Linked DNA regions of Homo sapiens. The protein of the gene in region 3 purifies or fractionates together with the protein of the main gene of each other region. This does not show direct contact. Each region holds a gene or a part of one and is shown on either strand. Other genes may lie near its edges.

Region 1 (3,655 bases), about 93 Mb from region 3:
TGAAGATCTACAGTGGAAATACATATGTATAAAATTAGTGAATTTGGTATAATGATACGGTGCTGTGATAATTTAATAAAAGCATTGAGAAATTAATGTGGTTTTAATACTAGTAGTTCCCCAATTTTTTAATATGGCCATTTTCACACTTTCCAAAAATTTGATAAAAATAATACTGGAGACCCATGTTACCATTTATATTCAAAATTACTAACATTTTGCAATGTTATATGGAGTATATCTGCATAAATACATATAATGTTTCTAGAACCTCTTCAAGGTAAATTGTAAAGATGACAATTGACCCCTAGAGACCTCTCAAAGCATGTCACAGGAATGAAGATATTCTCCCAGTTCCAGTGTCATTACTGTATCTAAGAACATCATCTATAGTGCCCTCATGTCATTTGGTATCCAGTCCATATTTGAATTTTTCCTTGCTTAATCAAAATATCTTTTGTAGCTCTTCTTTTTTTAACCAGAATTCAATTGTTTTTATATTGTTGTATTTTGATATCAGTTAACTTGTTTTTCCCAGTTGTTGAAGGTTTCTGTAAATTAGAAGTTAGATGAGAGTGTTTTATTACATTGACTTAAACCTTTGGGGCAAGAAAATATTTTTATCATGCTGTGTTTTTCAAATTGCACCACACTAGACTGCATACAATCACAGAATGCCCCACTAGTGGTGAAGGTAGTTTTAAAAACTTGGTTAAGCTCCAACAATGATAGACTGGATTAAGAAAATGTGGCACATATACACCATGGAATACTATGCAGCCATAAAAAATGATGAGTTCATATCCTTTGTAGGGACATGGATGAAACTGGAAATCATCATTGTCAGTAAACTATCGCAAGAACAAAAAACCAAACACCGCATATTCTCACTCATAGGTGGGAATTGAACAATGAGATCACATGGATACAGGAAGGGGAATATCACACTCTGGGGACTGTTGTGGGGTGGGGGGAGGGGGGAGGGATAGCACTGGGAGATATACCTAATGCTAGATGACGAGTTAGTAGGTGCAGCGTACCAACATGGCACATGTATACATATGTAACTAACCTGCACAATGTGCACATGTACCCTCGAACTTAAAGTATAATAAAAAAAAAAAAACTTGGTTAAGCTAACAGTGGTCAGATCTGTTGTTTTTAACTCATGTTTTCTCTTTAACAATTACTAGTAATCTGCTGGGGGATAATTCTCAACAGAAGAAGTCATATTCCCATGACAAATTTTCACATATGATTGAGTATACATCAGTGATTTGAACTTTTTTCTACTGCATTTCTGTTTTCTTCTTTGTTATTTCTTATTTGTTATTTCCTTGGGGTTTTTACATAATCATTTACAATTTTAACCACTTGTTTAACTATTCTTACCTGACATTTAATTAAAAATGATTTCTCACCAAGTAAAAATAATAAACTACTATTCCTCTAAGTGAGGGTAAAGGTGAACTTCTTCCTTCAATTAGCAATGTACTGTGAACGTAATTACTGTAATGACCACCATCAGAGTAGACAAAGATTGTTGTTCTTTTTCTCATTGTCGCACTAATTACTACAGACTCACGGATTCTTGTGTTATGATTTTTAATTTATTTTACTCATTTTTTAATGCTCACATCTACTCAGCATATATATATTATATATATATATATATAAAATATATATGAAAGAAGAATGTGATCAAAGACTCATGAGGGCAAGTGTAAAAGACAAAAGCACTTGTTTCATAGGGAACCCACTGGTGACATTTGAGATATCAACATACAAATCCATCATACAAAAAGGAAAAGTAATGAAAGACTGTGAAAATTATCAGTATTTATGTGTGTATGTATATTTTCTAGTTCATCTATATAGATATATATCATAGATGGCATATATGATATATATATTATATGTCAGATCAATTAGAAAACATACATATACATGTATGCATTTTTGGTATTAATTAGGAAACTAGTTCTTTTGTCTTTCAGACCTGCCCTCATGAGTCTTTGACCAAATTCTTGATTTCTGGCACGATTTGATGCCCAAGGCTCAAAGAATCTTACCTCATCCCAGCTCTGAAATTGGCCGTGTCTCGTTCTAGTGGTCGGAGTTATTGAGAAACCAGGATAGGGTTCATGGAGTTGCTTGTGCTCAGAAATAGCATTTCTATTTTCTTAGGAGAGAGGGGCATAAAATTTATTTTTATGAAAAAGATCATTTTTGACAATAATATTCTCAGTTCAAATTTAATGCTCTACATTATTCAGCTTCTTTTACTTTGGTGATTTTAATATTAGTGTAACTTTTGGATTATCTGATGCTTTTCCATCTTGCTCGTCTGCAGGTGGAATGTCATCCTTACTTCAACCAGAGAAAACTGCTGGATTTCTGCAAGTCAAAAGACATTGTTCTGGTTGCCTATAGTGCTCTGGGATCCCACCGAGAAGAACCATGGTAATAAGAGATACAGGAAGTTTACCTAAAACACCGGTTTGATAAAAAAAATTTAATCAGATCATGCTGTTTCCTGGAGTTCACTCACAGCTGACTTGGGGTGAGGGAAGAATTTGCATTTCTGACGAGATCCCAGGTGATGTTGAGGCTGCTGTTCGGGGGCCTCGCTTGAGAAGCTCCGGTGCAGAGTGGACGCCTTAGTCTGTTTAGGGAGCCGCCTAACAAACTGTATCCCCAGCCTCAGGGCCTCAGCCTTTCTGCCTTTCCTTCCAGGGTGGACCCGAACTCCCCGGTGCTCTTGGAGGACCCAGTCCTTTGTGCCTTGGCAAAAAAGCACAAGCGAACCCCAGCCCTGATTGCCCTGCGCTACCAGCTACAGCGTGGGGTTGTGGTCCTGGCCAAGAGCTACAATGAGCAGCGCATCAGACAGAACGTGCAGGTGAGGAGCGGGGCTGTGGGCCTCAGGTCTCCTGCACAGTGTCCTTCACACGTGTGCTTCTTGTAAGGCTCTCAGGACAGCCTTGGGCCAGCTCCATTTCCCTGTATTTCCTATGCATGAACTCTTTGTGTACGTCATAAGGGTTTCTTCTACTCTAGCACAGGAGAGGCAACAGAGGTGGAGAGAAATAGGATGGGATCAAAACTACAGATTTGGGTTAGCGTTAAGTCAGTGATATCCATATCCCTCTGCTGGGGCCATGTCCTTTTCTTTATTTTTTATAATGAAGCATTGATTAGATGTTCTTTAGTCTCCAACTCATGGCGGATTTTTCTTCTTGTATGTTTATGTAGTATAAATTCCTTATATTTATTCTCTTAGAATTTTATCTTTGCGAAGTGCTTGTTTAACTCTGCCTTTTTTTTTTTGGCGAGGTGGTTGTGTGTCTTTATTTTTATGTGTAGGAGACCATATTTATACCAATACCTTAGGATATAAGACAAACCCACTTAATATAGAGGCTTAATGCAAAAGCATTTATTGAGCTCAAGGTTCCATGGTTAGAAAATTAGCCTGGGCTCAGCCTAAACTCAGTCCATTCCTTCTGTTCCTGGCTGGGCTCTCATGTGTGTTCAGGGCAGTGAGGCAGCTCTGCTTCAGGATGTCCCTGGGGCATCTGTGTGAGCGCCCCCCTCTCCCATGCAGTTCTTTATCCTCCAGCCATCCAGCCCAGGGTTCACCTCAGCACAGGGC
Region 2 (3,655 bases), on a different chromosome or scaffold from region 3:
GAAAAAAACAAAATTCAAAGGATTAACAGTTGCTGAATTCAAGGCTTACTATAAAGCTGTAATAATGGCCGGGTGCAGTGGCTCACACCTATAATCCTAGCATTTTGGGAGGCTGAGGCGGGCAGATCATGAGGTCAGAAGATCGAGACCATCCTGGCCAACATGGTGAAACCCCATCTGTACTAAAATACAAAAAATTAGCCGGGCGTGAGGGTGCATGCCTGTAGTCCCAGCTACTTGGGAGGCTGAGGCAAGGGAATTGCTTGAACCCAGGAGGCGGAGATTGCAGTGAGCTGAGATTCCACCACTGCACTCTAGCCTGGTGACAGAGCTAGACTCCGTCTCAAAAAAAAAAAAAAAAGCTATAATAATTAAGACACAAGTGTTACCGGCATAAGGACAGACATATAGATCAATGGAATTGAATAGTGACTCCAGAAATAAACCTTACATGTGTTGTCAGACTGATTTTTGACAAGGATACTGTGATGGTTAGTTTTATGTTTCACTTGGCTAGGCTGTTGGAGCCCCGTTGTTTGGTCAAACAGCAGTCTAGATGTTGCTGGGAAAGTATCTGTGGATACAATTTAACATTTATAATCAGTTGACTTTAACTAAAGCAAATTACCCTCCACAAGGTGGGTGGGCTTCATCTAATCAGTTGAAGGCCTTAATAGCAAAGATGGAGGTTTCTGGGGGAAGAAACAATTCTGCTACAAGACCACAGCACAGAAACCTTGCCCGAATCTCCACCTGCTGGTTTGCCCTTCAGATTTCAAACTCAAGACTACAACATCAACTCAAACCTGAATTTCCAGCCTGCTAGCCTGCCCTGCAGGATTTGAACTTTCCATCTCTCATAATTATGTAGCAGATTCCTTAAAATAAATCTATCTATCTACCTTTTTTTTTTTTTTGAGACAGTTTCACTCTGTCACCCAGGCTGGAGTGCAGTGGCACAATCTTGGCTCACTGCAACCTCTGCCTCCCAGGCTCAAGTGATTCTTGTGCCTCAGCCTCCTGAGCAGCTGGGACTACGGATGTGCCTCACCATACCCAGCTAATTTTTTGTATTTTTAATAGAGACAGGGGTTTCACCATGTTGGCCAGGCTGGTCTCGAACTCCTGACCTCAAGTGATCTGCCTGCCTGGGCCCCCCAAAGTGCTGGGATTACAGGTGTGAGCCACTGTGCCCATCCATCTATTTCTTATTGGTTCATTTTCTCTTGAGGACCCTGGCTAATATAGGAGCCATGACTGTTCACTGTGGAAAGATTGTTGCCGGTACAACTTGATATCCACATGCGTTAGAATGAAGCTGGACCCATACTTCACGTCATAAAAACTTCAAAGTGGATCATAGACTAAATGTAAGAGCTAAAACTATAAAATTCTTACAAGAAAATATAGGACTAAATCTTCATCGCTTTGGGGTAGGCAATCATTTTTTAGCTATGACATCAAAATCACAAAAGGCAGAAGAGAAAAATGGATACATTGAACTTCACAAAATTAAAACCTTTGTGCTTTTAAGGACACCATCAAGAAAGAGAAAAGACAACTCATAGAATGGGAGAAAATATATGCAAATAATGTATATTTTTTGAGACAAAGTCTCACTCTGTCACCCAGGCTGGAATGCATTGGCATGATCTCAGCTCACTGCAGGCTCTGCCTCCCAGGTTCAAGTGATTCTCCTGCCTCAGCCTCCAGATTAGCTGGGATTACAGGTGTGCGCCCCCACGCCCAGCTAATTTTTGTATTTTTAGTAGAGATGGGGTTTTGCCGTGTTGGCCAGGCTGGTCTTGAACTCCTGACCTCAAGTGATCCACTCACTTTGGTCTCCCAAAGTGCTGGGATTACAGGTGTGAGCCACTGCGCCTGGCCACAAATCATATGTCTTATAAGGGACTTATATCCAGAATATTTAAAAAGCCCTACTCTCAATTAAAAAAAGACAACCCAATTAAAAAAATGGGTAAAACATTTGAATAGACATTTCTCCAGAGAAAATATACAAATGGCCAATAAGCACATGAAAAGATGTGCAACATCATTCATCATTAGAGAAATGCAAATCAAAACCACAATGTAAGTTACCACTTCATACCCAATAAAATGGCTTTAATAAAAAAGGCAACAGCAAGTGTTGACAAGAATGTGGAGAAATTCAAACGCTCATACTTTGCTAATAGGAACATAAAATGTTACAGCCAATTTGGAAAACAGTCTGAATAAGCTGGGTGTGGTGACGCATGCCTGTAATTCCAGTTACTCGAGAGGCTGAGGCATGAGAATCACTTGAACCTGGGAGGCAGAGGTTGCGTTGAGCCGAGATCGTGCCATTGCACTCCAGCCTGAGTTACCATTTGACTCAGTAATTTCACTCCTAGGTATATGTGCAAGAGAAAAGACAACATATGTTGACACAAAAACTTGTACATGAATGTTCATGGCAACATTATTCACCACAGCCAAAAAGTGGAAACAATTCAACTGTCCATCCACTGGTGAATGGATAAACAAAATGTCTTCTAACTATACAAGGAAATATTACTTCGCAATAAAAGAATAAAGTAATGATACATGTAACAACATGAGTGAACCTTAAACTCATTAGACTGCCTGAAGGAAATCAGACAAAAAGACCACACATTTTTTTGGTCCCACTTATGGGAAATGTCCAGAATCAGCACATCCATAGACAGTAGATTGGTGCTTGCCATGTGCCTGGGCATGGGGTGGGTAGGGGAATCAGTGAGTGCTAGCAGGTATGGAGTTTTCTTTTAGGGTGAGGAAAGGGTGATAGTGATGAATGTGCAGCCCACTGAATATACTAAACACTCCATTGTACACTTTAGAAGGTTGAACTTTAGGCTGGGTGAGGTGGCTCATGCCTGTAATCCCAGCACTTTGGGAGGCTCAGGCGAGTGGATCACCTGAGGTCAGGAGTTCGAGACCAGCTTGACCAACATGGTGAAACGCTGTCTCTACTGAAAGTACAAAAGTTAGCTGGGCGTAGTGGTGCGCGACTGTAATCCCAGCTACTCAAGAGGCTGAGGCAGGAGAATTGCTTGAACCCAGGAGGTGGAGGTTGCAGTGAGCCGAGATCATGCCATTGCACTCCAGCCTGGGTGACAAGGGTGAAACTCCATCTCAAAAAAAAAAAAAACCAAATAAATAAAATAAAAAGTAAAATTTGGACTTTATGGTGTATGAATGTCTCAATAAAGCTATTATATTAAAAATACATTTCCTTAGAGAGCTGAAGGATATTGATTTAGACCTCAATTAGTGATTTTTTCCCCCTATCATTCACAGTATTTTTACCTTAGTTCTGAATCCTTGAGTGATAACCATTCATAACCTTCAAACTTCGGAGAATTCCTAAACCAATATTTGTGGAGAGGGAGAATGGGGAGATTCAGATATGATTTGGTCTGTAGACTTTCCTTCCCATCTTTTTGCTACTTACAGCAAGTATCTTACAATTTGGACACATGACATACACATTTCACCTCCTGCATTGTGAGGACATACATAATGGAGTCTGAATTGTGACATCGATCTGCATCTCATAGTTGGAGCTATTGGCAGCATGGATTTTTAGTCATCCACAGTTAATGAGGAACAAATGAAAGGGACCTTATAATGG
Region 3 (3,655 bases):
GCACCACTAGTTTGACTACAGATTAAGCCAGCCCAAGGCCTCAGCCTACTGTGCTGGGCTGACCATGACAGTCTTCCCCCTTCTCCTGATCCTATGGATCAGGACTGCTGCAGAGACTCCCCTCTTTACTCCCGATCCAACAGACTCTGGAAAAGGAGGCTGTGGTCCAGGGGCTCAGCATGGGGGTGAAAAAGGAGAGGGAGGTGAAAAGGAGAGAGGAGGCCAGCCCTGATTTTTCCTTCCTGGGGACACTCTTGCCCCTCCCACTCTGTTTCATTTCCTCCCCTTCTGTGACAGACTCACACAGCTCTTGATGCAAATGTTTTTATTTGCCACTTAAACTACAGTTTCCCTGTGCTATCCTGATGGTGTGGGGGTGTGGAACAGGCTGCTGGAACCATGGTTTACAGTAGTAGCAGGTAGATGATTAGTAGCATGAGTGGTGAAATGCTGCATCTAAGTGCCTGTCACTTTGCTCCCAGGGGAATATCATGCAGCCCAGGAATAGTGTTAGACTGGGAAGGACTGTGGCAGGAACAGTCACTGTCTCTCCTCATTTTGGTGAGGAATGGGTCCCACATAATGGAGAGCTCAACAGAAGCATCCAGTCTTGTTCTGAATGGAGCAGGTCAGTGGCAGCAGCCTCTTGCTTTCATTTACCCCTTTGGGCTGCTTGCCTAAAGTCTCTCTTCCTTCACCTCCCCAGGCCTTTTGGCAAGAGGGAAGACACTGCCATTCCTGGCTCTTTCCCTGGATCAGTGTCTGATCTGGTGGAGGTAGCTTGTGGGGCCTGACTTCCTCCAGTTCCGGCGGATCCTGGCACTTTTCTTCCTAGAGTGCAGATACTGCTCACTGGAGGCTGTCTCTGTGGCACTCTGTGGGTTGGCCAGTGCAGAGTGGGGCTCCAGGATTCTGCAGAGAACAAGTGTATGATTAGCCAACATCAATAGGAAGAATGGAATGGGGACTTCAAGAGATTTCGTCATGGTGGACCATAAAACATATGATTTGGAGCAAAATGAGAGCGGGGCTCTGCTCTGGTCTTTCCCCCTCTGAGAACTGTCTGACTAGACAAAGTTTACAGATTTCTCTGCAGTAGAAAGGGTTGGACCAGATCAGGTTGTGCAAAACTCAACATTTCTTCATCCTCATCCTGTACTCATGGCAGATGTCATAAGTCATGCTATTAAACTGGTTTGATAAGCAGTGACTACTAATTAACTGGAGTTAAATACAAGCTATGACACTGACTTGCCATCTCAGGACCTGATGACCTCCAAAGGCCTGTTTAGGTCTGATGTTCTGATTGTGGGCCCCAGAGAAGGCAGCAGAGAGATGAAGCCCAGAGCATCACCCATAGTGATTGGTTGAGGCCAAGTGGTTCAGCTCCATCCCTTTGGGTTCACTCTTCCTGGGCTGGCAGTGGCCTAGGCAAAGAAGTGGCCCACCAGGGAGACTGGGGAGAGATCTCAAGGTAAAAGTTTTCAACAATTTTTAACCCATAATGCCTCGACAGTACATTCCTAGGCTATATTCTCTGTAATCCCCCAGCCAAGATTTTAATTAGGCTTAAAAAAAAAAAAAAAAGAGAATCTCACTCTGTCACTCAGGTCACTCAGGCTGGAGTGCAGTGACAGGATCATAGCTTACTGCAGCCTCAAACTCCTGGCCTCAAGTGATCCTCCTACCTCAGCCCCTGGAGTAGCTGGGACCGCAGGTGCATGCCACCATGCCTGGCTAATTTCTCTTTTTTTTGGCGGGGGGAGGGTGTGTGTGTGTGTGTGTGTGTGTGTGTGTGTGTGTGTGTGTGTGTGTGTGTGTGTGTGTGTGTGTGTGTGTGTGTGTGTGTGTGTGTGTGTGTGTGTGTGTGTGTGTGTGTGTGTGTGTTTTCAGAGACAGGATCTCGCCATGTTGCCCAGGCTGGTAAGCTGAGAATAACGGCAGAATGAGGTGATGCTACTAGGACTCAGGCATCTCTTTCCATGGGAGTTCACAGGGTTGTATATGACTCCAAAAGTAACAGCAATCTTTTTTTTTTTTTTTTTGAGACAGAGTCTCGCTCTGTCACCCAGGCTGGCTGGAGTGCGGTGGCGTCATCTCAGCTCACTGCAACCTCCACCTCCCAGATTCAAGTGACTCTCCTGCCTCACCCTGCTGAGTAGCTGGGATTACAGGTGTGTGCCACCACACCCAGCTAATTTTTGTAATTTTAGTAGAGACAGGGTTTCACCATGTTGGTCAGGCTGGTCTCAAACTCCTGACCTAGTGATCTGCCTGCCTCGGCCTCCCAAAGTGCTGGGATTACAGGGATGAGCCACTGCACCCACCAACAGCAATCTCTTAAGTGCCAACCAAGTGGTGACACTGTGTAGACCTTATAACCACCCCAATGGTGGGCAGGCACTTTACAGTGAGGCCAAGTAACTAGCTCCAGGCCACACAGCCATGCAGTGGTGGAACAGGCATTAGTGCTCTTCCCTCAGCCATCCGGTTCTAGGAACCTACCTGAGGCGGCTGCAGTGGTGTAGCGAGTGGCCCAGGGGTTTCTGCCTTGGGGGCCTCTTCCTGCGCAGCCTCTTGAGGGCCTCAGCCACACGGTGGTCCCCTGCACATTCCCAGATGATCTGTGCCCGTTCCTCGGCCAGCTGGTCCCCGCTGCGTTGAAACAGGGCTTGGATCTGCAGCAGCTCGGCGTCCTGGAAGATGTTGGCCGAGGCCTGCTTGCGGCCCCGGGCCTCAATCGGGGCCTGCCAAGGGGGTGGCTCACTGACCACCGAGGCTGGGGTACCCATTGTGGATGCTCTGAGGATGCAAAGCATGGAGACATCATCAACTCAGCTGGTCCTTCCCAGACCTGGGGGTCCTGGCTAATCCTAGGGCTTCTGATGTTTCCATTCTCCAAGAGCTAAACTGGAGGAAGTCTCCTGCCTTAAAATCACTTAAGCACTTATGTGTCAGACCCCCATATTATCTCATTTAGGATTCAAAGCAACCCATGAGGTAAGAATTATTGTTTATCCTCATTTTACCGATGAAGAAGTGCAACTCAGAGGGGTTAAATGACTTGCCAGCGTCACAAAGCCACGTGCACATGCAGAGCCAGCAGTTGAACCCAGGTCTGTCTAGCTGTAGATTCCATGCAGACGCCAGGATGCCCAGTAGCAGCTCAACTGTGTTGAGTACTTATACCAGGCACCTGTAACAGCTTGCTTCACATAGTATCAATGAGATGTAACAAGCACAACAGCCCTGTAAGGTAGGTATTTTAATCCTCCTCATTTCACAGATGAGGAATCTGAGGAAAGGTTAAGTCATCCATGGTTCTGCAACTAGGATGAGAACCCAGGCCTCTCTGATGCTAAGGCCCAGGTGCCGTAGCACAAAGGTAAGAGAGGAGTTGTGGAGCTGGGCTACCCGAGTTGGAATCCCACTTCTACCCCCTCCACCACTTACTGGCTGGGCATCCCCCCTGCCTCAGCTGCCTCCCGTGTCAAATTATCACCTAGTACTACTACCTACTTTGTAGGATTAATTTGAAGATTGAAGGAAGACAAAGTATATAGAATAGTGGTCAGTGTTTTCAATCTATAAAATTGAGACATCATCCCACCTCCTATCTTTAAGACCCTGGGGATGAACCAAATCTGTATAATTT

Evidence for each region.
Region 1: the proteins of AVPI1 (region 3) and AKR1C1 purify together in Homo sapiens (co-immunoprecipitation; one large-scale study listed by IntAct). This does not show direct contact.
Region 2: the proteins of AVPI1 (region 3) and IPO5 purify together in Homo sapiens (affinity purification with mass spectrometry; one large-scale study listed by BioGRID and IntAct). This does not show direct contact.

Annotation. Positions count from the first base shown.
Region 1 is NC_000010.11:4,969,848-4,973,502, forward strand, and holds part of AKR1C1 (aldo-keto reductase family 1 member C1), read left to right. Parts: exon of another isoform or gene 1-551; intron 552-2,072; exon of another isoform or gene 2,073-2,182; intron 2,183-2,353; coding exon 2,354-2,463; intron 2,464-2,551; exon of another isoform or gene 2,552-2,736; coding exon 2,737-2,902; intron 2,903-3,655. UniProt on the Homo sapiens protein: Cytosolic aldo-keto reductase that catalyzes the NADH and NADPH-dependent reduction of ketosteroids to hydroxysteroids.
Region 2 is NC_000013.11:97,960,079-97,963,733, reverse strand, and holds part of IPO5 (importin-5), read right to left. Parts: intron 3,388-3,655; exon of another isoform or gene 3,331-3,387; intron 575-3,330; exon of another isoform or gene 452-574; intron 1-451. UniProt on the Homo sapiens protein: Functions in nuclear protein import as nuclear transport receptor. Serves as receptor for nuclear localization signals (NLS) in cargo substrates.
Region 3 is NC_000010.11:97,677,114-97,680,768, forward strand, and holds the end of AVPI1 (arginine vasopressin-induced protein 1), read right to left. Parts: intron 2,803-3,655; 5' UTR 2,793-2,802; coding exon 2,506-2,792; intron 913-2,505; coding exon 756-912; 3' UTR 311-755; downstream 1-310. UniProt on the Homo sapiens protein: May be involved in MAP kinase activation, epithelial sodium channel (ENaC) down-regulation and cell cycling.